Linked DNA regions of Homo sapiens. The protein of the gene in region 3 interacts with the protein of the main gene of each other region in a biochemical or structural test. Each region holds a gene or a part of one and is shown on either strand. Other genes may lie near its edges.

Region 1 (7,709 bases), about 12 Mb from region 3:
GGCCTGAGACCCACAATTTCTGTATAGCTCTTTATAGTTTGCACAAAGTACTTCCTCAGCTGTTGACACTCTTAATCTTCATAAACCCTGGAGAGATCAGTGGGGCTGAGAAAATTAATCCCCATTCTAAAGACAAAGGTTCAGAGAGGTCAAGGAATGTATCCAAGTTCACACAGCTAGGAGTGCCAGATCTGGGACTTGAACTTGGATCTCCATACTCCACATCTTGAGTTCTTTTCTCTGCTCCTTGGGACAACCCCCCACCCCGAGTGACAACATTACGTACAAAACTGCTCCACACACTCCAGAATGAGCATCTGTTCCTCATCCTCAAGAGTGTCGAGTTGAGAGGCCTGGAGGGAGACAAAGAGGAAGGGACAGGGAAGTCAACACCCCCTGCTAGCAGGGACGCCCTCCTCCCCCATTCTCACCTCTTCTCTCAGCTGATGATTCTCCTCCTCCAGCAGCCTCAGCTTCTCCTGCAAGGCTTCCAGCTGTGGGCAGTGGTGCTGGTGCAGCAATGCCTCCTGCGAAATCCTAGGGGAGGGAGGAATGGGAGTCAGGGTGCAGGGAGTGGGGCTTCCCAGTTCCCAGCCCACCAGGGCTAAGGGCAGTGTTCTCAATTAGTTCCAGCAACCCTGCCAGCAAGCACATCACCTGTGTCCCTCTTAACAAATGAGGAAATTGAGGCTCAGAGAAAGGACTTGCAGGTGCAAAGGCAGGAACTCACAGCTTAGGGGCATCACAGGGATGAGCACACTGCAGGTCTTCCTCTGCTTCTTCTTCTTCCTGTTCCTCTTCTGCCTCCTTTTCTTCCTCCTCCTCTTCTTCATCCTCATCCTCCTCATCAGAATCTGAGTAGAGCTGGAGGAGCTCATCCCGCAAGTTCACCTGGTGTCTGAGGTATAAAATCTGGCAGGAAGAGAGAGGAGCCATGGGTTGGGAGTGGGCAGGGACAGGAGAGGGTCCTGGCATGAGGCAGGTGTAGATTGGCCCGCTATCCTCTCCTCCCCACCCGGTTACCTCCTCCTTGGCTGAGCCCAGCAGGGCTTCCAGCTTGCTGTTCTCCTCCATCAAAACACTGTTCTGTTTCACCAGGGACTGGCCGATGCGAGCTGCAGTGTTCAGGTCCCTCTCTCTCTGCAGGACCATCCCATAGGTAACGCTCTCCCAGACAGGTGGGAGAAGCTGGGGGGGACACAGGGGTCAGAGAGAGGCTAGGCCCCTAAGAGAACCTTCCCCATCCCCTAGTTCTCTAGGGTACCAGACCAGAGTCTGCCATTAACCCACTGTGGAACCTGGCTCAGTTTCCCCTCATGGAAAAAGAAGATCAGACCAGATTGGCTCTGAGAGCTCTTCCAGCCTGAACATCCCACATCGACCTGTCTTCCATAAGAAGGACCCTAACCTGGGGCCCCAGAGAGACTGCCAATCAGGAAATAAACAAGACCCCCACCCCTACAGGACAAAACTAGAATAAGGGCTTGCCTGGATCAGGAAGGCAGTACACACCTCCTCCAGCAAATATAACATCACTTTGACGTCTTCCTGGGTGATCTTTTTGACTGGCGGAGGTAGGTTAGGACACAGTGCTGCAGGAGGCGGCAGGTGGGGAGAAAAGGCCCAGCCAGGTCAGGAAAAAGGAGCAGATGCTACCAGCAAACAGCTGTTTCCCGTCCTATCGTCAGTTCTCCAACAAGGGTCATCGGGAGAGAAGACTGGGCTCCCCTCCTGCCCCCCACATCCTCCCCTTACCCCTCGGCACTCAACACTCCCTTCCCTGCTCCCAGGGCCAAGTGGACAGGGTTTTTAGGTTTTTGGGTTTTTTTTGGTTTTTTTTTTTTTTGGTTTTTTTTTTTTTTTAGACAAAGCCTTGCTCTTGTCCTCCAGGCTGGAGTGCGATGGCGAGATCTCAGCTCACTGCAACGTCTGCCTCCCAGATTCAAGCAATTCTCCTGCCTCAACCTCCCGAGTAGCTGGGGTTATACACGCCCGCCACCACGCCCAGCTTATTTTTGTATTTTTAGTAGAGACGGGGTTTCACCATGTTGGCCAGGCTGGTCTCGAACTCCTGACCTAGTGATCCGCCCGCCTCGGCCTGCCAAAGTGCTGGCTGGGATTACAGGCGTCAGCCACCGCGCCCGGCTTTTTTTTTTTTTTTTTTTTTTTTACCCCTGGAGGAGCCTGAGGTAAGGGGGTCACAGTCCTCCAGGCTCAGAAACTGGGCTCTCCGGACACCTGGGTCCCTGGCGCCTAGAATGGAGACAGCCAGGGGAAGTACAGCCTCAGACTGGCTCATCACCCCCTACCCAGGAGGCAGTGCAATGGAGTCTCCTGGGTCATACAAACAGACGCAGCCACTCACCCTGCACCTGTTGCGTGTGCAGAGGACAGGAGGAAGACTTCACCAGATTAGGAGACACTCGAGCCTCTAGGCCCAATCCAGAGATCTCCCCCGACCCGCAGGAGGATAGGAGAGACAAGGGGCAGGAAAAGAGCGCGACTTTGCCCCCATACCCGCAACCAAAAAGTGGGCAAAACTTCCCCCTCCGCCCGCCCACCCACCCCTCCATCGCACGCAAGCCCGGTCGGCCAGCGCAGACTCAGAGCGCGCGGGACAGCGCCCTCCCGCAGCCCCCCGCCCCTCTCCTGGCACTGCGGTAGACCCAGGAGAGGGGCGCTGAAGGGGTGCAGATCTGCCGCAGCAAGAGGCGCGTGGAGGTGGGTGGGCGAGCGTGCAGGCCCCAGAACCTGACTCACGGGCACAAACCAGGGGACAAGAGCAGAGGAGGAGATGGAGAAGGGGCGACCAGACAGACACCGCAGTGACATCGCGGGGGTGGTGGACGGGTGACACTGAGTGCTAGAGGGGGCGGGGTGCCTGGACCCGATGGGGCCACTTCCTCCCTGGAGTTGCCCCAGTCCCCACCCGGTCCAGGACCCCGGGGGCCCGATTTACCTTCCTCCAGCTCCCGAATAAAGGCGGCGCGCTCAGGGCCGGACACCCCGGGTCGCCGGCCAACGTAGGCGGCTGGCGTCTTCCAGATGCCCGCTGCCTTTCCAGTCCCCCGGCCAGTGGCCCGGGAACCAAACGGCCCTTGGAATACGAAGCGGGTCCACGGCGCGTCCGAATTGTCGGGCATAGACCGGACATCCCCTTGGATGGCCGAGAATGCGGACGGGCGCCGGGCTCCTGCCTTGGCTCCAGCCTCCGAGGCCGGGCGAGCTCCGGTGCGGGCTTCCGAGAGGAACTGGGATCCAGAGGTGGCTCGGGATCCTACTCTCTGTCCAGTGCCCCGTGCCTGCGGCTGCGCAGAGGGCTCCGGAGCGGGACTGGCTGAGGGCGAAGGTGCACAGGTGAGTGCTGCTGGGTCCCCGGGTCCGAGCCGGCTCCCCGCGCAGCACCGGCCCAACCTCTTCGGGCGCATCTCGAGTCTGCCGTCCGCTGCTGCGGCGGGACCTTTATAACCTGCGCCAGCCGCCGGGCCGGACCACGCGTAGGGGTGGGGGCTGCCGAGAAGCAACTAGTGGCAAGCGGGACTCAGAGCCGCGCGGGAGGGGAGCTAGTGGTGACGGAACAGAGCACAGTAAGAAAAGCAGGGCAAGAAGGGCGAGTGCAAGTTCCGGATGGCTCCGAGTTGGGATGGGAGCGAAAGATTTTTTCTGCCCTCTCCATCTCCGGAGAATGGTTCTGCCCAAAGCCGCGGCTGCCCCAGCACTCGCGGGTCCCTGGCTGGGGGCAGCCCCTCCCCAGCTGCCGCGCCGGGGTTTCGGGTGCCTTCCCTGGTGTAGAAGCTGCCAACCCAACGTTGTGCATACGGTCTGGGGTGGCCAGTGCATTAGGGCAGCGCTGCGTCTTTCCCGGTTGACTGGGAGAGACATTCCAAACTCCAGTGCGCTTCCAACGTGCTGCAACCCTGCCTGGCGCTGCAACCCTGCCTGGCGCTGCAACCCTGCCTGGCGCTGCAACCCTGCCTGGCGCTGCAACCCTGACCCTCGCGCTCACACCCCAGTGCTCGCGCCACTCGACGTCTTCCATTTGATTGGATTAACTGTTCTTCACCTCCAACCCTAGTTCGCTTTGCCCTCCTCTTGCCATGCTGGCGAACCCCTGTTCTCCTTGGGAGACGCCTCTTAAAAGTCTCCCTGTAGCCGGGCGCAGTGGCTCACGCCTGTAATCCCAGCACTTTGGGAGGCCGGGGCAGGCGAATCACCTGAGGTCAGGAGTTCCAGACAAGCCTGGCCACCTGGTGAAACCCTGTCTCTACTAAAAATACAAAAATTAGCCAAGCATGGTGGCGTGTGCCTGTAGTCCCAGCTACTCAAGAGGCTGAGGCAGGAGAATTGCTTGAACCTGGAAGGTAGAGGTTGCAGTGAACCGAAATTGTGCCAATGCACTCCAGCTGGGGCTACAGAGCGAGCCTACCCCTCAAAATAAATAAATAAATAGAATACTTTTTTTTTAAGTATCCTACTGGAAATGTTGGGTAGACAATTAGATGTATAAATCTGAATGTAGGGGAGAGACCGGGCTGGAGATTTAAATGTAGGAGTCATTGTTCTTTGATGACCATTTAAAGCTATGAGACTGGTGAGATCCCCAAGAGACTGAGAGAAGACAGGTAAGAGCGCCCAGGACTAACCCCCTAGGATTCAGAGGGCAGAAAGAAGAAGAGGAGGCATCAAAGGAAGACTGGGATGAGTGGGGCAGTGAAGTAGAGGAAAACCAGGAAAGTTGGGTCCTAGAAAGTAAAGAAAATGTTTCATGTAGAGAGTGGCCACCTGTGTTGGGTGGTGCTGTTGGGCCAGGCAAAGACTGAGGACAGAGACTCAGCTTGGCAAACTGGGGTCATGGGCAACCTTGGTGAGCTGGGGTCATGGCCTCGGCAAGAGCGGTCTTGCGGGGCCAGGCACAGTGGCTCACACCTGTAATCCTAGCACTCTGGGAAGCCAAGGCAGGTGGATCACCTGAGGTCAGGAGTTTGAGACCAACCCAGCCAACATAGTGAAACCCCATCTCTACTAAAATACAAAAATTAGCTCGGTGTGGTGGAACAAGCCTGTAAGCCCAGCTACTTGGAAGGCTGAGGCAGGGGAATTGCTTGAACCCAGGAGGCAGAAGTTTCAGTGAGCCGAGATTGCACCACTGCACTCCAGCCTGGGCAACAGAGCAAGACTTGTCTCAAAAAAAAAAAAAAAAAAAAAAAGAGCGGTCTTGGTAGAGGGGGTGAGAGAGACCAAAGAGGAGTGAGGAAATAACGAGAGGTAACAAAATGAAAACAGAAAGAAGGCTAGGCGCTGTGGCTCACACCTATAATCCCAGCACTTTGGGAGGCTTAGGAGGGTGAATTGCTTGAGCCCAGGAATTTGAGGCCAACCTGGGCAACATGGCAAAACCCTTTCGCTACAAAAAAATACAAGAATTGGCCGGGCGCAGTGACTCACACCTGTAATCCCAGCACTTTGGGAAGCCTAGGCGGGTGGATCGCCTGAGGTCAGGATTTTGATACCAGCCTGGCCAACATAGTGAAACCCCGTCTCTACTAAAAATACAAAAAATTAGTTGAGCATGGTGACGGGTGCCTGTAATCCCAGGTACTCAGGAGAATCGCTTGAACCCGGGAGGCGGAGGTTGCAGTGAGCCGAGATTGCGCCATTGCACTCCAACCTGGGCAACAAGAGCGAAACTCCGTCTCAAAAAAAAAAACATAGCTGGGCATGGTGGTGCATACCTGTACTACTTCAGGGGCTGAGGTGGGAGGATCACCTGAGCACAGGTCGAGGCTGCACTCCAGCCTGGGTGACAGAGCAAGACCCTGTCGGAAGGAAGGAAGGAAGGCGGGAGGGAGGGAGGGAGGGAGGAAGGAAGGAAGGAAGGAAGGAAGGAAGGAAGGAAGGAAGGAAGGGAGACAGTATAGAAAACTGTATTGAAGAAATCTGCAACAAAGGAGAGCTGGAAAAGGGCACAGGAGCTGAAGGAGGACATGAGTGCTGGGGAGTGTGTTTTGAAGATGGGAGAGAGGACAATATGTTTACATGCTGATGGAAATGTTCCCTCAGGGAGGAGAAAACAGGTGCAGAAAAGAGAGCTTATCTCCCAGAATACTTCTGGAAATGGAGGAACTTTCATAACATAACCGTTCTCCTCCTTGTTCAAAGTCTGCATGTTTTATTTTCTTTCTTTCTTTCTTTCTTTTTTTTTTCTTTTTTTGAGACGGAGTTTCGCTCTTGTTGCCCCAGGCTGGAGTGCAATGGCACGATCTCGGCTCACCACATCCTCCACCTCCCGTGTTCAAGCAATTCTCCTGCCTCTGCCTCAGCCTCCCCAATAACATGCGTCACCACATCCGGCTACTTTTGTCTTTTTAGTAGAGACGGGGTTTCTCCATGTTGGTTAGGCTGGTCTCGAACTCCCGACCTCACGTGATCCGCCTCCCCCTTGGTCTCCCAAAGTGCTGGGATTACAGGCGTGAGCCACTGTGCCCAGCCCAAAGTCTGCATGTTTCCTATGGTTTCTTTGTCAGCAGAAAGCTTGAAGGAGACACACAACCCCAGGGTTTGCTACGACAGTGAGGTTGAAGAACATAAGGAGGTGGCTGTTCGGGCATCGGCACAGCCCAGGCTTCCGTGAGGCTACAGCTCCATAGGCTCTGCCGAGTGGTCCTCCCACAGCCCAGCTTCCTGGACTGTCTCTCTGTGCCTTGGACATCTCTGCAGCCCCAACCACCAAGCACAGAACAGGGCATACAGAAGAAGCCTATTACACTCCTGCTGAATTAAATTGTTTCTGGCCCCATGAGGAAGAAGCCCTGGGAAACCCCTGGAGAGTTTGACGGGGAAGAAGGCAGAGGCAGTGGGATGGAGAAGACAGAGATGAAGTTAGGAGACCCTGAAAGCTCCCCCAGCTGACCACACCCTCTAGGTCAGCGCACTGGCAGCCAGCAACTCTGGCTACGGCCACCAGAGGGCAGTGTCAGCCCGTATACCTCCCCACGTGGCTTCCTCACCTACAGGCTCAGTCGCCCCACAGAAAGTGGAGTAGGGACAGAGACTCCATTTTACAAATGGAGAAACCAGGGCTCAGGGCCCGTCATTCTGGAAGTAAGCATTTTGGCCTGGCTGACAGATATCTGCCTTTCGACAGCCTAGGGCTGTCCAGGAGACTGGGGGTAGTCTCTGATCCAGGCCTCTCAAGTGGTTTTCCTCTGTCAACCACCCCCTCCCTCTCCTGCTTCTCATCTAGGGGGAGAAATCAGACACAGCAAAGACCCTTGGCCTCCTGTCCTCCCTCCCAGTGTGCATCCATGGACCCTCCTGGATCCGAAAGAGGATGGGAGGGTGCAGAAGACTTGCCAGGCTGCAAAGCCAGACCACCCACCACCTAATTGTGCACACCCCCTGAACCTGGGGCACATTCACTCCAGTGCCCAGCCCTGGGCAGCACACAGGTGGCTCAGGCCCCTCCTCCTGCCCCCTCCCCTGGCCTGACCCTGGGAAAAAAAACACCTGGAACAGGGTAGGTAATAGAAAGAGCCCCTAAGGGTCGGTGCCAGGGACCTGGGGGGGACAGGCACCGGGGTTACTTTCTGCAGGGGAGCAGGGTGGAGGGGCACCCTGAACTAGGAACAGGGGAGACCTCCTCACCCCCGCCGCAGTCCTGCTGTCTCCTGCAGGCCTTTCGGGGGCCCTCCCCCATCTCTGATCCAGGC
Region 2 (7,785 bases), on a different chromosome or scaffold from region 3:
TATAAATTTTTAAATAATTGCTTTTGACCCTTGTAAACAGCTTGGCTTTGTTTTGTATTGAAAAGGAGATCAAGCCATCACAGTGCTATTTCTAAAGATATAGGACATCCCTGATTGCCTTTAAAGCTCTATTTTTGGCTCCGGTTCCAGGTTAAATCATTCTTTTTTACATGATCAGAGGCAGGTTGTTCAGCTTTAAGTATTGACAGACTTGAAGGAGAAACACGTTGAAGCATGAAACATGCTTCAAGGAAACATATTGATTTGACTATTAACAATCCAAAAACTGTAAAAATGGTGGAATGGTAAAATACAAACAGTACTTGGAATTGTCAAATGTTTGCACTCGAGACTCCATGAACCATATATTTTATTTTTTAAAAAATCATATTTATATCCATTTACATAAGACTTACACATTTAAAAAGAAATGCACGGTAATACATAAATGCCTAGTATATTACAATAAAACATGAAAAACAACTGGCTTCATTTCATAAAAGCATCTGTTGTACAGAGTTTATGATGTAGATGATGTTTATTATTCAAATGACTTAAGCATTTTATTACAATTTGTAGTAAACTAATCAAATGTAATATCTGACTCCCCCCAAAAATCACATTTTTCAGCTTTTAATAAGTCATGACGTCATTATTTCCTTAGAATTCAGTTTTCACAAAGGTTTTCACTGCTCGTCTTCTTAGATGGTAGTGCACTTTAGGTAGAGTAGACTGAAAAGACGCCATCTAAAATATACAATGGATAGCATTAGTTCACTGAAAAGTCCCAGACTGGGAAATCTCATTCTACTCCTCTGTGGTGTACCTCCACGCAGCCTGCTTACTCCTGTCCTAGAAGATCATGAGAAGGAAATCATCTAGGATGTAGCCAACAGCCGTATGTAATTAACATTTGCTTTTCTCCAATTTGGTGCAGGGGAGCTTAACAAATAATAGAATTTGCTCAACTTTGTGGAAAGTATGGCAGTAATGTAAACAAAGGTAGTTATGCAAAATGTTAGCATGCCTTCTGAAAAATTTACAACTTGCTAATTAATAAATTGGGTTGAATTGACCTATTTCATAATGTAGATTTATATTCTAGTTCATATATTTTAGAGTTCTTAAAAAATACCTTTATTTGTTACAAAAACATAACGATAATAAGTCACCTATTGTAAACGTTTGTGTCAGTAGTATGGCATTGCTGATTGTTTTCAGCCATAATGTACTTAGAAAAAGCTCACAATTGCTATTACTGACACAAAAGAAACAGCAAGTAGTATGCTCTGGATTATTTTAATATCAAAAGTGTTGTTGTTTCACCCAAACAAAAAATGGTTGTCCTAGATTGAATTATTGTAAATGAATACTGTTATCCCAATTAATGGTAAAAACTAGGAAATATGAACTAGAATGTCATGCACAAAAAACAGATTGCAAATAGAGTAACTCTACCCATCACTTAAGAGCTAAGAAGCAAGCACTATTGAACATATTAAATAGTCATTTGTAAATTAGTGAAGTGTTCATTTCCTGAAGAAATTATAATGCTATGTGTAGAATCTAATATAAACAGTATTTTGGGAGACCTCTTATTTAGCCAAATTATTATATACTTTAAATCATGTCTAATTAGGTGCCAAATTATATACCATAATTAAAATTTTAATGTAAGGGTTGTACATTCTGAAATTAAATCTCTTATCGGGATGCTTTTCATTTTATCAGCTTCAAATAGTGATCCAAATAAGGCAGCATATCTGCTCCCATCCTAAGCCCAAAAGACCAACAATAAATTGTGTGGCACTTTTAGTTCAAGGCAATGAAAACAGCACAAGGTGAGTTGTTCCTCTGTCTATAACTGTTTTCTCTTAACCCTGTGCACACATTTTGTTCTAAATATCGCTCTTAAAAAGTATTTTTCTAAAATATTGATTCATCGAAAGTGGTTAAATATTTTGGTAAAGCATAGTTTTAGGTTGAAAAAAAATTATGAACATTTGACATTTATAAATCTAAGAAACCACAGTTTTACTATTAAGACTGTTTTTCAATAAAACCTCATTTTTATATGGATTTTAAAGTAGCTTTCATTAATTGGTATTTCCTTAAAATCAAATGCTTGGTATTTATGGTTACATAGGAAGGTTTTGTGCTGGTCCTATTCTCCATTCTTAAAGTAATTTTATTTTGTTCCTATATGTCTTAAATACTTAAAATTTATATTTGTTTTTAGCAAGTGTAAATCAGATTGATAAGAAACAATGTAATAAAGGTTTGAATTTTTCACAGTTTCTACTATTTATTTATTGATTTATTTTAAGACGGAGTCATGCTCTGTCACCCAAGCTTGAGTGCAGTGGCACCATCGCTCACTGCAACTTCTGCCTCCCAGGTTCAAGTGACTCTCTTGCCTCAGCCTCCCAAGTAGATGGGATTATGGGAGTGCAACACCATGCCTGGCTACTTTTTGTGTTTTTAGTAGAGATGAGGTTTCACCATGTTGGCCAGGCTGGTCTCTAACTCCTGACCTGAAGTGATCCACCTGCCTCGGCAAGTTTCTATTTTTTAATATGAAACCATCTCTAAATCATTTTCCTGTCTGTTGCTATTTGACTCGGTGAACTTGCTTAAATCCCTATCCGCTACCTTGGCTTCCTTATATAAAATATACACTTAAAAAGATAGGATTTTTTAAAGTGCTGAATTATTATCAATAAAATGCTAAGTTACTCAACAGGAAATGGTACTAAAAAGTAGAAAACAGTGTAGTGGCAACCCATTGATGTGTAATAATACAGTGATAGGCCTCCAACAGGCAGACCTTAAACCACAGGAGACAGATGGTGATAGGAAATGCTAGACTAAGTGTTACAATATGAAGATTTCTTTTTCCCCTGAAGCAATTCAAAAGGGTTATCTCATTTCTGTACTGCTAGGGCATACCAAAGAGTATAGTGTATATTTATTAGTCTATGTAGGTTCCATTTTTTTGTCTTTTTTTTTTTGTCAGCCAAAGGGAAACTACTCACAGCAGGTCAGTGCTGCCTCCTTTGAGTGGCTGGTCAACATGAGTATGTGCGAACAGTGGAGTTGTCTAACCTCTGCAGTCTTGATGAAGCAACTGCAAATGGAGAAAAGGGCTTTAGAGGGACTTGGATGATTGAGTACAAGATTTCAGATGAGAAAGATTTATTTTCCCTGCATACAGGGATTCCGAACATATTAGTAGACCTTCTTTCTCTCAGATATAAGCCACTCACATTCCTCTTCTCTAGATCAAGTTCCTAATGAAAATTTATCCCAATGTAAATGACCTGAGCTTTTGAGTTGTTATGTATTCTTCCTTAGATAAAATCGGTAACAAGAGCAGCTCCCGAGGGTGCTTCTGATTTTGATATGGAGATTGCTCTTAGAGAACTCATTATAGTGGATTTTTTTTCCTTTCCAAGTATTGAAGAACTTCTACACTAATTGTAATGATGTTAAATTCCTCATGAATTTCGCTGACATGTTCCACCGTATTAACAAGTTGTAAGAAATGTAGATCAAGATCACAGTTTATGTTGGAACTAAATTTGAGTTATAATAACTGTGACCTTGACAAGAAATAATGATGCTAGGTGATTATCTTAACAAATAGCATGGGACTATTTTTCTTTAATGCCTCCCAAACAGAAATAATTTTGTGACTACTATTTCAAAGTTGTCTCTCCTCTGGAATGACTTTTCTTTTGTAAATTAGATAGCTTAAGTCTAATGTCCACAGAAGGAAATAGTAATTGGGAAATTACTGTGTTTTGTGTTTCTTTAATTCTCTTCTCATGTTCATGGCTTGTTTATTTAAGGGCTTCTGCTTTGGCTAGAGGGAAAAATATTTGATGAGTGAATTTCTAAGATGACATATAAAACTCGCAGTATTTAAACATGTAGGGAGACAGTGGAGTTAATTTCCATTTACTATGGATCTTTAGTCCAAGTCCAACCTCTAACTTAAACAAATTGTTAATTTTGGGAATAGAAGACTAAAGAAACACAAATCCTGCCGATGTTTATTGTTCCTCCTAGAGGTGGACATTAACCAAATTGTTCTTTTTGGGATGTTATAAATTATTTTGAAAATGTGAATAAAGTGCCATGAGTTCATGCAATAGCAGTGTAAAAAGGAGTCTGGTTTGTGATGAGAGCAAAGTAAATTTCAAGCAGAGCAAACCAACTCAAGAAAATAATTCCAAAAAGCAAGGTCAGAGAATTATACTAGCTTTGGCTAAACAAGCTTTTTGCTTGATAAGCAGCAATGCAAAACTACTGTACCATCTGTTGTCATTTTTCTTGACTGCCCAGAGGTTGTGGTTAACCTAAATCCAGCTGGTAATGTTTCTGAGGACCCAGGCATCATGCTGATTCCATGTACTTCACGAGGAGGAAACTGCCTTCTCCAGGTTGATCCACGTCTGAAGTTCTTGTCATCACTCTGCCAGTACAGTTATAAGGTGATGTTATGAAAACAAGTAAACTAGTCCATGTGCTTAAAGCTCTGTGCTTAGAAACATGTAACATAGATTATTTACATTTAGTCTGTCAAGTATACGTATGGAATCACGCTTTATCAAGATAGTTAGTTCTATGATTCCAAAACAAGACTATAGGAGATTTGATATATAAATTTTTAAATAAAACTTTTCATACAATTTCAAATTTAAGGTCTGACATCTATACAGTAAATATCCTTGAAAGCCTAAAATAAGCAACCAATGTTTTCCAAAATAAATATTGTATATACATTGTTCCACTTTATGCCGACGGGTTTTATGGAAAGAGATGATATACTTAATTGAATCAGTTGTTGAGTAGACTACATTTAACTCACACACTTGAATGAAATGACTTCTATGTACACAAATACAATGTAGGTATTTATTTTGGGGAAATCTATATTTGAGATGGCATGGCTAATATGAGACACTGTAGCCTATTATAATATCTGTACAAGAAACTCTAAATATGTGATTTGTGAAGTTTTAGGTGACACAGAATTAACTTGCAATTTGTTGAAAAATCTGTGTAGCCTGGACACCATCCTTTCAATAAGTACATGTGGTCTTTGGGTACCACCGAAAGCATAATATTACCCTGGTTACATTTTAATAATGTGTATTTTAATATACACAGAGGCAGAGAGTCACATCCCATTTAATTGGCCCAGTAGACTTTTTCTCTAGTTCATTACTATCAGGAAGCAACATCATACCCCACATAGGCTAGTGTCTCTACTTGGACAGATCCTAGGGTGAATCCACATTTTAGAATGTAGCATAGCAATTACATTTTAATTCTGGTTGCTGATTTTGTTATGCCTTAATAAAATAATCTCTTCCTTCTCTTTGTGTACATAAAGTACTTTTACAGACATAATTATTTTCCTCCAAATTGGCAAGTAGCAATATATAATTCAGCAGTCAATGAATATTCTGTGTCTAATTCCAAGGAAAATATGAATCATTCCACATAGGTCTTGTCTTCTCATCTCACTGTTTCTTATCTAGGGAAGGACTATCTATGCCATAGATAGGTATAGCCAAGTATATGTTGTGTATCCTAATATCTCATTTGATTTCATTCTGGCATTTGGAATAATAAGTCTATATTCACTCAACATAGTAATTTGTGCTATGTTATAGTGAATAATTCTATAAGGTAGGCTTTGTAGACTGCTATATTAATTAAGGGACATTTAAAGTCAATCAGGGAAAAATAAAATCATTTTTATATAATAACATATATCCACTGTTTCAATCCTTATCATCATTAAAATCTACATTTTGTTTCAGTGTGGTAGCCATTTTGCACATTAAGAGATGTCCGCTACTCTTCCCAACTGCTGTGTTTTTCATTGCCCTAGATCTCCAAATGTGTGTAAATGTAGAAAAGAAACAGAATTTCACAGTTGCAGCCTCTACGACTTCTTGATTCTTGGAGAAGTTTTTGCATTAAGCATAAATAGTCTTCAGTTTTATAAAACACTATGTTACACTGTAGAGCTACACAACTCCTTACAGTGTCGTAGCTAGGGGCTTAAAAATAAGCCAGTTTTGGCTGGGCGTGGTGGCTCACGCCTGTAATCCCAGCATTTTGGGAGGCTGAGGTGGGCGGATCACCTGAGGTCAGGAGTTCCAGACCAGCCTGACCAACATGGAGAAACCCTGTCTCTACTAAAAAATACAAAATTAGATGGGTGTGGTGGCACATGCCTGTAATCCCAGCTACTTGGGAGGCTCAGGTGGGAGAATCGCTGGAACCCAGGAGACGGAGGTTGTGGTGAGCCGAGATCACACCATTGCACTCCAGCCTGGGCAACAAGAGCGAAACTCTGTCAAAAAAAAAAAAAAAAAAAAAAAAAATTGCCAGTTTTTAGAGTTAAGCGTTTGAATTATGATTCCTGACTTCTGTTCTTTCAACATATTGTTACTGCAGAAAGTTGATAGAACTATAAACAACAACATCATGGGGAAAACTTTTCATGAGATAGGGTTAATTCTTTTAATTGGGGTCAAAGTCTGTATAAGCTTGTTGACACCTCTCAGATTATTTCAGTGGAATCTGAATGTGATCAGCAAAACCGCAGAAATAAGTCCACTACTGTTCTAAGTAAGTTGGCTATTTTTGCTCACACTAAAAAATAAAATAAAATTGAACAAAAGAGACTAGAGGGTTTAAATGACAAAATTCTATTTTGTGCTTTTAAAAATAAGAAAAAGCAGCAGCATAGTTTAAAGACAACGAGTCGCATCTCGTTTAATTGGCTCAATAGACTTTTCTTCTAGTTCATTACTATTAAGAAGCTACCCCACACCTGGACAGCTCCTAAGAGAATGTAGCAATATGACAACTCTTCAATAATTTTTTATTAGAAATTTTTGCAACTTATAAGTAAGAATAATTGTATTTTAAGATGTATGAGTTTATAAGACTACCTTTTTGAATCAATAATTTCTAGTAAGGATTTAAAAGACTGTCATGCAACTTATAAGACGAGGCTTTTAAAAATATTAATCATTATGCTGATTGAATAAGAGCATGAATTTATCAGAAGTTAGCTGAGTTCAAGACTGTAGAACTTATCTCTCTATAATCCCCACCATAAAGGACAGAGTGGATTTTATAATACCAAGATTATCTGTCCTGCCTATTTGAATATAGAATGATTGGTCCATATTTGAATTTGCTGAGGTCTTCACAAAATAATTTTAATCAGCTTGTCTTTGTAGTAAGGAACACCTGTACTTTGCAACACAGAATTATGCATCTCTTTATTTTCTATTTCATGCTCAGGTTTCCTTCCCACTTCTTCCAGAAAGACCCTGTAGAAAAACTCAGAAAGACTATTAAAATGTCTACAGTCCACAGCATTTGCTGATATCCCTTGTATTCATTCATCTCGGGAGGCTACTTACATGTTTATTATTTTCCAAATAACTTAATATGCACATATTATATAGCGATTCTTATATTCAATATAGCTTTCAAATTCTATGACTGTTAAAATGTTATTAATCTGTTTTGAAGGAAAACTCAGTATCAATATATAAAATAATAAAAAGCTTTCCATTTATTGAAGCAAGTTTTATCCTCATTTTAATTTTCTAAAATTTCCTGGCAAGATATACTGATATTTAAGAAATACACGCACTCTTTATTAAAAAGCTGAATTTATCAACATTAGTGTTTTAACTTTTTTCTAATTTTTTAAAATAATGTTGCCCAACGTTTTGCAGTCACGAC
Region 3 (7,785 bases):
GCTTGCTCTTCCTCTCAGTGACCTGTTTGTCCACCACCAGTGTCAGCCACCTGGCAGTCACCTGAAGCCTCCCTCACCCTCCAGTCCTAGTGAAGCTCCCCAGGTTCCTCAATCACCTGTTGCCTGGGCTTTGTAAGTTTCTTAATCTCCCTCCTTCTAGTTTTGTCCCTACAATCCTGTTCCACCCAGCAGCCAGGGTGATTTTTTGGATACACCTGGCTGCACTACCCCTTGCCTTAAGGCACTGCAGTGATAACAGGTGCATATGGCACACTCCAAACATACTTCATCAGAATACCCTAGGGACGGGCACAGTGGCTCACACCTGTAATCCTAGCACTTTGGGAGGCCAAGGTGGGAGGTTCGCTTGAGGCCAGGAGGTGGAGACCAGCCTGGGCAACACAGAGATACAAAAGCAATTTAAAAATTAGCTGAGCACGGTGGCATGTGCCTGTAGTCCCAGCTACTCAAGAGGCTATGGTAGGAGGATCGTTTGAGGCTGTGGTAAGCTATGATCAAGCCACCGCACTCCAGCCTGGGCAACAGAGCGAGACCCCAACTCTTAAAAAAAAAAAAAGGCTAAACATTTTGCATACATTCTTATCTAATCCTCTCCTCCCTGAAAAATAGATGCTGTCATCTCCATTTCCAGGAGAGATAACCAAGGCTCAGAGAGGTCAAGCAGCCTGCAAGTCACACAGCCAGTAAGCAGCAGAGATGACTTCACACTTCTGTGCCTGGAACTCTCCGCTCTCGGGATGGTCACTGCTCCTGCTGATGCTCTCGGGGCTGCTCATTCTCCAGCTCGTCTCTATCCCAGTCTTGCTTGTAGGGTTCCCTGCCTCCCATGCTGTGCTCCAGCCCGGGGGCTGCCTCCATTCCCATGCAGCATTTCTACCCTCCATGCCTCTGCCTCTCTTGCTGCACTCCCCCATGAGGACTAGAATCACCTGGCTAGGCTGCCTCCCCAGCTAGATTGTGAGCTCCTTAAGGGCAGGGATTGTGTCTCAGCTGCCTCTGTGCTCCCAGTGCCAAGAGCAGTAGCTGGCTCCGGGAAGGTGCTCAGTTAATGTGCTGTTGAATGGAGCCCATATTTGGGTGTATTTACCATACACATGCACGCATGCACACACAACCCAGGTAGAATCAGACCATAGAAGTAGGAGCCTTGGGGTCTGGAAGAGGTCTGGGTTTAGGATCTGAGTCGCCCAGGCCTGGTTATGCCCATCTGCCCACACAGGCCCTTGGGGAGGAGAGCACCTCCTCTCTCCAGATCCAGGCCAGCAGGCACAGCCTGGCATGAGGACATGGCCATCAGAGGTGGCCACCAGGTGGCACCAGCATCCATCTTATGTGCTGGGTGAGTGGCAGGGGGTGTCCCACACTGCCTCTCAGACGGAAGCAGAAACACCTCATTCAACCAGCCTCAGCGCACGTGCCTAATTCTGAGCACGCTAGAGGCCTAGCCAGCAGTCACAAAGTTAGTCACATCCCTGAAGCCCACCCATCTTTTCAGCGAAGAGCAGAGGCTTCTCTAAAGACAGTGGGGTCGGTGCCACTGGGACAGAACCCAGTGGCCCACCCTCCCAGCCGGAGGTAGCTTCTGTTTCTTTTTCTTTTTTTTTTTTTTGAGACGGAGTTTGGAGTTTTGCTCTTGTTGCTCAGGCTGGAGTGCAATGGCGTGCTCTCGGCTCACCGCAACCTCTACCTCCTGTGTTCAAGCGATTCTCCTGTCTCAGCCTCCCGAGTAGCTGAGATACAGGCATGCGCCACCACGCCTGGCTAATTTTGTATTTTTGGTAGAGACGGGGTTTCTCCATGTTGGCCAGGCTAGTCTTGAACTCCCGACCTCAGGTGATCCGCCCGCCTCGGCCTCCCAAAGTGCTGGGATTACAGGCGTGAGCCACCGCGCCCGGCCCACAGGTAGCTTCTCACACCCAAGCCCTCCATGTACTTGACAGTCACGGGGCTCAGGCTATGCGGGCCACATATGGAGCTGACATTTTTTACCTGCCTTGGGGCCCAGCATTAGGGACTGAGGACTAAGCTGTGCCTCTAGTCTCTGGGGGGAGGGAGCAGGGTCCTAGGCCTCTGAAACCTGGGCTGGGAGCTCTGGGGGTCAGCCACCCACATGGCATCCAACAGCCTCTGGAAAGGGGCATCAGGTGGGCACTCACCTGTCAGCCATCTGTGGGATGATGTAATGCCCATTCTTGTGATCTGAACAAAAATAAAAATGCCAAGTCACTCACTAGTGCTGGGTGGCCTCAGCAGCTGGGAGCCCACCTCACTGCCATGAGCAGGGCTGGCACCCAGAAGTGTCAGGGGAAAGTGGGGAGGGCAGGCCACCCCCAAGAATGCTGGGAGCTCGTGGGAGGATGCAGGATGCCCACCCCCACTCCCTAGCCCCAGCGATGCTATGGCCCAGAGCCTGCAGTAATTTCACAGGAGCCAGTTGCCTAGCAACATTGCTCCCCAGCCGCTCTGTCACCATGGCACCTGCTGCCGGGTGCGTCCAGGTCCCACCTGCCCAGCCCCAGCCAGGCCTGTCACAGCCAGGCGCCCCCCAAGCTCTGCTCACCCGGCTTGCGTCCACAGAGGTAGAAGGCCAGCCGGTCAGTGAGCTCATATTGGCACTCAACCAGCCTTTCCGCCAGCTCATGGTGCCCCGCCTGCCTGTGAGGAGGGGGTATGGCTCAGACCTGCAGCAGCAGCCCTCACCCACACCCCCACCCACCCACACTGCACCCTTCAGCCGACCCTCACCTGGCATAGTCAATGGGTGTGCGGCCATTAACATCAGGGGAGCCAGGGTCAGCCCCATACACTACAAGCAGCTCGGCCTGCAGTGTCTGTCCTGCCTTGGCAGCCACGTGCAGAGGTGTGGTGCCCTTCTCTGGGTGGAAGAAGTTGGCCTGGGCACCCAGGGAGAGCAGGCGCAGACATGTCTCCAGGTTGCCTGTCCGCACGCTCGAGTGTAGTTGCTAAGAGGAGCAGAGTGTGCAGTGAATACGCATGTGCGTGAGGCGCACCTCCCCACCCACAAGCTGCACCCTGGCTGCCCCTGGGACACCTAGCAGCTCCAAGGAGGCCTGCCCAAACCAGACTATGTCGGGAGGACAGAGGCTTCCCGCTAGGGGTTAATGCCAATTAATAAACGCTGCCGTCAGTCACCATCTACCACGTGTGCTGTGTGCCCTGCTTAGATACTATTTATGAAGTAGATGCTGTTATTTCTTTCCCATTTTACAGATGAGTAAACTGAGGCTATGAGTGGCTAAGCAACTACCCCCAGGTTTTCCCAGCTTCTGAGTGGCAGCTGTGGGCTTCTAGCCTTGTGTGTCTACTTGGTTGCTGGGGAGCCTCAGCCACACACGGCCTGACCCAACAATCTGCTCTCTCCACCCTGTCTACTGTTACCCTGACCTGGCTGCCTTTGGGGCCCAGGGCTCAGTGGGGACAAAGGAGAGGCCTTCAGAGAGTCGTGGATGGGAAGAAGAGGAGGGGGCCACCCATCTGTTGTAGGGCCCCTCAAACCTTGCTGAGGTCTTTGGCGGTGACTCCATCATCGTCCCGGCAGGGAAGCTTGTGCACAAATGCCAGCATCTGGTACTTGGCCCTGATGAACTCTGACTTGATGGGGCTGCATGGGGCACACAGGAGGAATGGGGAGCATGGTGGGAGAGGGTGGTCACCTTGCCACCTCCCAGGGCCCTGTCCCGGACTGCGCAGTCTCTGCCCACCACCCCTCCAGCCCCACTCACTGGACTTTGTCTTGGGGGTTGGCTTTACGCCGGCCGCTCTGCACTTGTGCGGGGTCCAGCAGGGAGTGCTCCCAGATGGAGTTGGCCCCGTTGCTGGCAAGCGTGTGCACCATCTGCAGGGAAGAGATGCCAAGTGAGAGAGTGCCCACTGCGTGCTAAGCAATGGGGGAAACACTTCCTGAGCGCCTGCTGTGGCTGGCGTAGCTGGAAACGGTACCAAGGGGGCCTACTGTGTGCCCGCACCACCACACCTCCATCTAGTCCAGCTGCCCAAAGACACAGATCCCATGAGTGTGCCAAGGCTCAGAGAGGTGAAGCAACTTGCTCAATGCTACACGACCACGTTGATAAGTGGCAGAGCAGGGGTGTGAGCTACTCTTCTGCATGAAGTGAGTAGATGGGAGGAAAGGGTCAGGATTAGCCTCTGCCCTAGGGGGGTGCTGCCCCTTGGAAGCTGCAGATTCCAGATGGGGGTGTATGTGGGTGAGGGGGAAACGCCCTCATGCTCAGCACACTCTGCCTGAGGGGAAGGAAGAACCACCCGACTGAGCCCTGTACCTGCAGCAGCGTGGGAGGCCAGGCGCTGTGGCGAAGGTGCTTGACAATGGAGATGTGGCGTCCCAGGCTCCGGTGCACGCTGCAGCACTCGTCACACACCAGCACACCCCTGCTGATGGATGCCCAGCCAGGGTCTGCCAGGGTGAGGGCAAGGGTCAGCCGGAGCCAGATGATGGGCCAGACCTCCTGAGCACCTGCTCTGGCCCGTGCCAAGCCTAGTACTCTCCACACATTCACTCACTCAGTCTCCAACAGCCTAGGAGCTGGGACCATCACTACGGCCAGGTTACCAGTGAGGGATCTCCCCAAGAGCTCACAGCTGGGGGCTGACAGAGCCATGCCCTTTCCTACATCCTTACCCCTCTGGGATATGCAGTCCCCAGGGCCCATTCAGCAGGCACAGTTTCCTGCCCTGCAGCCACTGCTACCAGTCTCTCAGCCTTTTCCCAGGAAACGAGGTCTCTGCCCCAGCCCGTCCCGAAGGGAGGAAGGGATCCCCAAGGGGATGCAACCCAGATGCTGCTGCATGCCAGATGCTGTTGAAACATGCCTGACAGATCACACCCGTCCACAGGTCCTGCCTCTGGCCTCCTGCCAGCAGGTGAGGTCCTTTCATGCTGGAGCCTCCTGCCATCATCACTGAGGGTGTAAGCTGGAGCCCTCTTAAGGAAGATGGACAGAGCAAAGGAGCTGGGCTTGACTGGGCACCCACTAGGTACCAGCTGGGTACATTATGTGTGATGCTGCTTGCAACTGTCAGGCAAGGTAGGACATGCTACCTCTGTGATGAAGAAACAGTGGCTCAGAGAGGTTAAAGGGCTTATTCAAGGATGCGAGGCTAATGAGTAGAATTGCCAGGATGTGGCACTTTCATGCCTGAGACCATGCCATGTCCACACTTGCTGCTGTCCCTCTGCCTCTATAGCCTGCTCTCCACTCTTTTGGGAAAAGTGAACTTGGGAGAAGAAGCAGGGCCAGGACTGGGTGGGAGTTCCGGGGTTCTTCTCAAGGGTGGAGGAGATGCCACCCATCCTAGGCCCCTTGGGAGACAGCTGCATACGACTCAGGCTGCGGAAAGGTCACGGGGGAGAAAGCAGCCATTGTGTGCCGCCTGAGAGTGGGGGCAGGGCGCCTCTCTCCCAGGACACTTTGCTCTGCCCAGCGGCCCCCACCCTGTCTCAGGAAACCCTGTCCTGGGGTGGGGGTGGGGGACTGGCTCTCTGCCTTGCCCTGTAGCGCTCAGGGTGTTCAGAAGTATCCCCATCAGGGGAGGGACAGGCTTAGGGGGATAAGAATCTCTCCCAACTAGAAGGCAATTCTCAGGCCTTTCCCCTCTAAGGACTTCCACCAAAGTTCCCAGGAAAATTGAGGAGACTCTGAGTCAGGGGCCCAGCCTGAGCTCTGCCCACAGCAAGTGACCCCCACTGAGGCATGAAAACAGGAAGTAAAGGAGAGAGGCCTGTCTTTGGGTTTAGGCTTTTTTTTTTTTTTTTTTTTTGAGACGGAGTCCCGCTCTGTCGCCCAGGCTGGAGTGCAGCGGGTTTAGGCTTTTTAAGGGACCCCCTCCCAATCAGGGCAACAGAGGGATGCCCAAGGTGACCGCCAACACCTTCCTGGGGGGCTGACTCCAGGGCTCAGGAGGAAGGGACCAGCCTTCTTCGCCAAGAGGGGGAGCCCTAGCATGCACTTCTGGGCTGGCTTTACCCAAATAGTGAGGCACCCCAGGTGTGGAGACCTCCCTCTCCCCACTCCAAACACCACTGGGTCAGGGGGCTGCCAGCCAGCCACCTCCAGCAGCCCAGGCAGGAAGCCGGAAATGATGCAGCCCAAATTCCTCTTGGTGGGGTTTCCTGTAAGTGGGGAGCCGCCCAGGGCAGGATCATAAATGGGCTGATCTGAGGTCTGTGGTCCTACCGGAGAAGCCAGGCATGGAAGGCTGACTATATATCCACGGCCAATGGCTCCAGAGCCCTAAGCCATGGGCAGACCAGATGTGGTGAGTGACCCTGGCTATGGCAGTAACCAAGACCAGGATGCAGGAGTGTGGTCCAAGGGTTTGCCTGGCACTTTCCCCCAGCCTGGGGGAGGGGTTCTCCTTCTCCTCCAGGTGACCTGAGAAGAATGGTAGGCAAAGGACACTGTCCTGGTCTGGGCAGCCGCTATTGGTGTCAGCTCATTTCTGGATGACACAGATGGGACGCCCACCCTAACCATTCTGTCTCCTCCCTCTGTGCAAGTGCCCTTGGGACTACCCAGATTGTAGTTTAAGGTGAAGGGATCCTTGCGTCAAGAAGCTCCTTGGACCAAACCTGGGACGGAAAGGACAGGAACTGTAAGGGAACTCGTCAGCCCTCCCCCTGCGCTTCTGGCTCCACCGGCAGGGTATGGGTCTGTATGTGTGGAGAGGTAGCAGGCGTGATCCTGGGATCACGTTAACCAGTGCCAACCCCATGGAGGCCTCTACTACGGTGAATTCCTGCCACCACCTGAAGCCATCAGTGGCCTCCAGGGCCAGTAGGTTTGCACATACAGGCTAGCCTCAGGCCTCCCTCCCCTGAGCTAAGGGCCAGATCTCCACTAGACTAAGGGAAAAGCCCACATCATGAAGGCAGGCGAGAGTAGTCCTTGGGGTAGAGTCAGAATGGTGGTTACCTCTGGGGTGCACGGACTGGGAGGGGGTACTTGGAAGCCCCCTAAGGTGATGGAAATGTTCTATAACATGCTTGTCTAACCTGCAGTCCATATGCGGCCCAGGCAGCTTTGAATGTGGCCCAACACAAATTCATAAACTTTCTTAAAACATTATGAGACTTTTTTGTGACTTTATTTTTTATTTTTATTTTTGCTTGTTTTATTTAGCTCACCAGCTATCATTAGTGTTAGCGTATTTTAGGTGTGGCCCAAGAAAATTCTTCTTCCAATGTGGCCCAGGGAAGCAAAAAGATTGGATACCCTTATTCTATAACATGATCAGAGCAGTAGTTACATGGGTATACACACATGTAAAAGCCCATCAGGATGAACACTCAGGTGCAGGCATTGACACACACAAATTCTACCTCCATAAGGGAGGAAGAGGAGCCCAACATTTGTCCCACTCTGCAATCTACACTATGAAGAGACAAATCAGCCTGTAGCTTGTCCCGTAACATGTCCCCGGCCTTGCTCACCAGAGATACCTACAGGACAGGCATCTTGAGGCCTTCACTCTCACCCCCAGGGTTGCCAAAGTGGAAAAGGCTGAGATAGAAGCCCATGGGGTGAGGAGAGGCCCTTGACTGAGATCGTGTGGCGAGGTGGGCCAAGCCTAAGGAAAGGGGAAGATGCACATTCTCCAGGGCTCCCTGCCCCCTTCCTCTCTTGGACTCCCCAGGCAGGCAGGAACACATACGGTGCCTGACGAGGTGGCACAAGCTGCCAGAGCAGCCATGTCATGTCCAGCTGCCTAGCAACACACTCACAC

Evidence for each region.
Region 1: the proteins of GIT1 (region 3) and HAP1 form a complex in vitro, tested with the Homo sapiens proteins (one study listed by BioGRID).
Region 2: the proteins of GIT1 (region 3) and PPFIA2 form a complex in vitro, tested with the Homo sapiens proteins (one study listed by BioGRID).

What each region holds. Positions count from the first base shown.
Region 1 is NC_000017.11:41,731,207-41,738,915, forward strand, and holds the start of HAP1 (huntingtin-associated protein 1), read right to left. Parts: upstream 3,438-7,709; 5' UTR 3,429-3,437; coding exon 2,960-3,428; intron 1,593-2,959; coding exon 1,513-1,592; coding exon of another isoform or gene 1,489-1,512; intron 1,189-1,488; coding exon 1,024-1,188; intron 913-1,023; coding exon 731-912; intron 538-730; coding exon 432-537; intron 354-431; coding exon 287-353; intron 1-286. UniProt on the Homo sapiens protein: Originally identified as neuronal protein that specifically associates with HTT/huntingtin and the binding is enhanced by an expanded polyglutamine repeat within HTT possibly affecting HAP1 interaction properties.
Region 2 is NC_000012.12:81,258,914-81,266,698, forward strand, and holds part of PPFIA2 (liprin-alpha-2), read right to left. Parts: intron 4,478-7,785; coding exon 4,318-4,477; intron 3,128-4,317; coding exon 3,069-3,127; 3' UTR 3,036-3,068; intron 2,298-3,035; exon of another isoform or gene 748-2,297; coding exon of another isoform or gene 719-747; 3' UTR 1-718. UniProt on the Homo sapiens protein: Alters PTPRF cellular localization and induces PTPRF clustering. May regulate the disassembly of focal adhesions.
Region 3 is NC_000017.11:29,579,161-29,586,945, forward strand, and holds part of GIT1 (ARF GTPase-activating protein GIT1), read right to left. Parts: intron 4,457-7,785; coding exon 4,323-4,456; intron 3,878-4,322; coding exon 3,765-3,877; intron 3,644-3,764; coding exon 3,538-3,643; intron 3,181-3,537; exon of another isoform or gene 2,985-3,180; coding exon 2,767-2,984; exon of another isoform or gene 2,677-2,766; coding exon 2,582-2,676; exon of another isoform or gene 2,221-2,581; coding exon 2,178-2,220; exon of another isoform or gene 945-2,177; coding exon of another isoform or gene 631-944; intron 1-630. Other genes in the region: TP53I13 (tumor protein p53-inducible protein 13), read left to right, coding at 631-944. UniProt on the Homo sapiens protein: GTPase-activating protein for ADP ribosylation factor family members, including ARF1.